Regions from separate parts of the Homo sapiens genome. Here region 1 is linked to region 2. The links come from fine-mapping of genetic effects on gene expression. Tissue or cell type: whole blood. Region 2 holds a variant in brackets; the other region holds the start of a gene. All regions are shown on one strand. Distances are from middle to middle.

What was found. PIP is the estimated chance that this variant, and not a neighbour inherited with it, causes the effect.
Region 1: NAIP starts here. The variant in region 2 is fine-mapped to the expression of NAIP in whole blood (TOPMed, PIP above 0.99). The same link has a PIP of 0.9 or more in thyroid.

What each region holds. Positions count from the first base shown.
Region 1 is chr5:71,023,938-71,026,557 of GRCh38, reverse strand. It overlaps NAIP (NLR family apoptosis inhibitory protein), which reads left to right and starts at 1,219. Exons shown (of 17, transcript NM_004536.3): 1 at 1,219-1,943; 2 at 2,152-2,240. RefSeq lists cis regulatory regions at 1-1,090, 1,456-1,669 and promoters at 1,091-1,455, 860-2,620.
Region 2 is chr5:71,378,957-71,381,723 of GRCh38, reverse strand. All of the region lies in intron 2 of LINC02197 (long intergenic non-protein coding RNA 2197), which reads left to right. It also overlaps the pseudogene PMCHL2. Among named protein-coding and RNA genes, the nearest start is that of LINC02197, 66 kb to the left of the region's middle. The variant C/T (reference allele first, on the strand shown) is at 1,636.

The sequences.
Region 1 (2,620 bases), 360 kb after region 2:
TAAAACACTGCCCTATGTGTGTGTACTTTTTAGCTAAAAAAGTGTTTGAAAACAGTATTATTTTGAAACTCAAAATTCCAAATCCTCTCTTCAAATTAGGTAGTAGTGTCACTGGAAGTAAAAGAGAAGTTACTTTAACTGCTAAAGAGTATCCACTAAGAATCTACATCAAACATCATGTTTAATGCTCAAACTTTAGAAGAATTTATACCAAAAGTCAAGAATAAGATAGGATATCTATCTTCATTATTAAGCAACATTATATTAGAGGACCTAATCAATGCAACAAGGCAATAAATAAAAGACAAAACTGTCATAATCAGATACTACAAACATCTAAGAAAATTCAGGGGGATTTACAGTCATATATTAAACAGTCCAGAAGGAGTCCTATACATCATCAATGAATATTGAGAATAAAAAATAGTTTTTAAAACCCCTCCAATTTATAAGGGCAACAAAATGTACAAGGTACTAAAATAAATGTAATGTGTATTTGGGTATAAATACAGCAACATAATGAAAAGGTTTATTGGGGAAAAAATTACAGGGAGAAGGGTCAACAACGTGAAGAGGTTCCCCTGCCATCTGGACTTCTGGAAAAAGACCTGCTGGTCTAGGCACAGCTGGATGCACCATGGAAAGTGGTTCCAATAAACACTGGCACTGTAACAATTGTGTATGTTGATACAAAAAGAGGGAGCCAATGAATACTTGGTCGATTATTTAACAATTGCTTCTCTGCTGAAGAAATGGCCTTGTTGGACTAGAGCTTAACTGTGGTTCACATACTAATGCTGCTATAACAGCTAGAAGCCTTACTAAGAAATTTGCTAAACCACCAAAAAGAGGAAATGAACCTTCTAGGATATCTGGATTGCCTTTTCTTAAAAATCTAGTCTTGGCTGGGTGCTGTGGTTCACGCCTGTAATCCCAGCATTTGGTGAGGCCGAAGTGGGCGGATCACGAGGTCAAGAGATCGAGACCATCCTGGTCAACATGGTGAAACCCTGTCTCTACTGAAAATACAAAAATTAGCTGGGCGAGGTGGCATGTGCCTGTAGTCCCAGCTGCTGGGGAGGCTGAGGAAGGAGAATCACTTGAACCCAGGAGGCTGGGTTTGCAGTGAGCTGAGATCACGCCATTGCACTCCAGCCTGGCAACAGAGCAAGACTCAGTCTAAAAAAAAAAAAAATATATCTAGTCTGTATGGCAGCACAACATCAGGTAAAAGTACAGACTAGCCAGATCACTGGTTAACCTTAACCCCTATGTGCTTGAGTTTCCTTATCTGTAATATGGAGATGATATAGCAATAGCTGATTTTGGACTGTTAAAGGAATTAAGTGGACACATGTAAAGTGCTTAGAATTGTGCCTGGCAAGTAGTAGGCTGCAATATTGTGATATAATAAATATATATATTTGATCTTCATCCAGTTCCTGGCACAGATCTCCAGAAACCCTTGTAATTTCCTGAGTGACAGGGGTGATAGAAACATCTTTTATTAGAATACTTGGTCTTGGTTCCTGACACAAGAGCTTCTAAGACCTTTGGAATCTCCAAGTGATAAGAGTGTATGACAGTGAGCTAACTGGTGGCTGGGATCCTTTAGACAACTTCAGGATGGGGGCTATCCCCTGAAAGACTAAGGCATGATTAGAGGTCTGGGATTTGCAGCCCCACGCCTCGACCTCCAGAGAGGGTAAAAGGGCTGGAGATTGATTAACCACCAGTTGCCAGTGATTTAACCAATCATGCCTAAGTGATGGCACCTCCATTAAAAAATAAACCACAGGTTTGGAGAGCTTTCGGTTTGGTTAACCCCAACCACATACCAAGAAGGCGATGCACCTCAAACTGCATGAAGACAAAAGGTCCTGTGCTCACCTGGGACCCTTCTGGACGTTGCCCTGTGTACCTCTTCGACTGCCTGTTCATCTGTATCCTTTATAATAAAGCAGTAAACATAAGTAAAGTTTCTGAGTTCTGTGAGCCATTATAAGAAACGATCGAACCTGGGATTTTCCTTTCGGAAGCCGCTCTCTCTCACAAGGGAGAGAGCTGTTCTCCTTTTTCTTTTGCGTGTTAAACCTCCGCTCCTAAACCCACTCTTCGTGTGTATCGTGTCCTTAACCTTGTTGGTGCGAGACGACGAACCCCGGGTATTGACCCCAGACAACAATGCCACTTCATATTGGGGACTTCGTCTGGGATTCCAAGGTGCATTCATTGCAAAGGTGAGTAAAGGGGCGGACCTCAACTCTGTCCTTTGATTTCGAGGCTCTTGGCCTCCATTTTAGAATCAAACCAAACCAAATACTGGGCCCCCTTCTGCTTCTGTGAATGAGAAAACTCTGCCTTCACCAATTAGCCATTTAAAAATTATGAGCGTGGCTGCCAGCCTTACAAGTTTTGGGGGACAGGCTTGCTGGGGAGAACATGGAGAACCCCCCAATACCCACGGGCTGCTGGGCATATTGGCCATGTTTGAACCAGTTTCCTTTCACGGAGGACCAAGCTGTCGTGTGGGGCTGGAAGAGGTCCTGGAGCAACTGAGGATTTCTGGCTGGGGCTACCTCCTGGTGCCATCCGAAGGCTTCTGGACTGACCCCAGCCT
Region 2 (2,767 bases):
AGTGATTTTGGAAATGCAACAAATACTTAATAAATAGTAGCTTTTAGTTTTAGAGGGAGCAGTTGGGACATATGGATGAGACTCAGAAGTGTATGAAATTGGCATAGAAAGAACAAACAAGCATCAAAATCCCCATCACAGGAAAAAAGTCTTTAAGTACTTAATAGATTTGTAGGTGGTCGTGAAGAAAAGGGGCACTGTACAGGAACACAGTCCTAAAGTAGCTGGTATACTGCTTAGGAAATCAAAGAGCAGAAAAATAACATGGTTTGTGTACTTTAGGATGGAAACCACTGGTGTGAGATAGCAAGGATGGAAAAGCAAAAATCAGCCAACTCTGAGATTGTGCACAGATTTACTGACCACTACCAGATGAATACAATATCTGATAATGATACAGCTTGGCTGTGTCCCCACCCAAATCTTATCTCGAATTGTAGCTCCCATAATTCCACATCTTGTGGGAGGGAACTGGTGGGAGATAATTGAATTATGGGGGACAGTTTTCCCCATACTGTTCTTGTGGTAGTGAATAAGTCTCAGGAGATCTGATGATTTTATAAGAGATTTCCCCTTTCTCTTGACTCTCATTGCCTTTGCCTGCCACCATGTAAGATGTGCCTTTTGCCTTCTGCCATGATTGTGAGGCCTCCCCAACCACATGGAACTATGAGTCCATTAAACCTCTTTTTTTTTTTTTTTTTTTAAGATAAATTACCCAGTCTCAGGTATGACTTAATCAGCAGCATGAAAATGGACTAATACAGATACTTTTCAAAAAGATTAGGGATTAATTAATTACCAATACCTACTCTTGGAGATATGATTTTCTTTTTTCTTGATAGGGCAAATCCAGTGGATTCCAATTGTTCTTTATAGAGAAAATGTGACTTCTGTCAACTCCACTTAATTAAGAGTTTACCTTGGATTTTAATGTTGGGAGCGGGCAGAGAAAAAAAGAACAAACATCCTCCAAAGGGAACAAGAATGCATTATAAACTGACTGAAAAGTCAGAGACAAATGCCCAATGTGATCCTCGAGATAAAAACGAAAATGGCCATTGGTGATCAAATGGCATTAGTTCACTAAGAAAATGGTCCTGGAAATTAATTTTGCTAAAATGTCTTTGATGAAAGCAAAGTAAGTACAGAATGAGAAAAACAAAGAGTTGGAGAATAAGATATTAATTGTCACAGTAGATACATTTCTGGAAATCTGACTGGATGAACAAAGTTAAATTTCCATAAGAACATACTTCAGGAAGTAATATCACAAAGATGTGTCTGTATATACATTTATAATATATGTCCATTTGCAATAAACAATATGTCTGAAGCTTCCTGAAGGTAATGGCTAAGCTGATCCTATTTCATGTGGTCTTATCTTGTTTAGCAGGTGGAAATAGACAATACATAGTCATTCAGCAGGCTGTTGTTTTCATATGATACAAAGTAAAGTTGATATAACTGTTTAGATGGAACAATCACAGCATGGCTTACTTTAAGAGAAAACCCAAGCTTCCCGAGTTTAGTATATGATTTATTTTTTCTTCATCTATATTAAGCAATAGTAAAACTAAGCCTTGATAGGGGGACACTTCCAATGTTTTACATTTTAGTTGAATTAAAAGATAT[C/T]TCCTTTTCCAAAAATAAGACCTATAAATGATTTGTTTTCTAGGTAACTAGTGTACAATGCCCCTTCCCTCTGTTTGGTAGCTAAAGGTCTACAGTTATGAGAAAATGGAATAACATAATGGGGTAGAGGCCATAAAATATTTTAAACACATTACCAAGTTATTTTTTCTATCTTCTATTTTTAATGTATACAAAACATTTATTCATTTTGTGTTAACAACTTTGTTATTTATTCAGTCTGTTGTTAAATGGTATGAATATTTGAAAATTTAATCCTGATTGATACAAGGAGGAACATAAAAATATCTATAACAAAAATGTTTTCATGACCCCATTGTTAAAAGATTAACCTTTTTTAAGGCCATGTTATGGGGACTTTTACTTGAGTGCTTACTATAAAGTGTTTTAGATGTATTTCATTTATATTATTGCAAGGATTAAAATTAAATATGCTGTAAGTGGGAAAATTTGTATTATGATGGCCACTAAGAGTATTTAAAAGCATTATAAGTTGTCACACACCTCATTAACTAATATTGATTAGAATTTCGGAGTTAAAAATGTTGCTCATTTTACAGGTCATTACAATTAAGTGCTTACAGCCACCAAAATCATATTTTGGTAAAGTGTGTATTGCATAACCCAGGCACATTTTCATGCTAGAAAAATGTTTAAATGATATGCATTGCTTTGTATGCTGGAAAGATAGGCGATCATTATGGATCTATTGCAAGGCACTGAATTGGAATATATTCAGATTGAATTTCTGAGCTGTGTTGTGCATCAGAAATTTCTATATTCTCATCTCAATATTTAGACCTTCTCTTTCTCTACTCATCTGTGAAGATGATAATTCACTCCTTCATCAGTGCTCTATTTTGTACCTTCGATGTCCCTACTGTATGTCTGTCTCGAAACTATTGATTCAACAAAGTACTTTCTGCCACAGTTTATACCATTTTGGAGATGAGATACTTAACTGAATGTTCTCTTGTTCATTTAGCCACTGCTCACCGTTAACCTTGCTTTCTTCCTTTCTATATACCCATATTTCTACCTAAATGGGTTAAAAAATTGATATATTGTGTGTTTATTCTTTGGAAGAGTTAACAATTAAGATTGTAGACAAAAG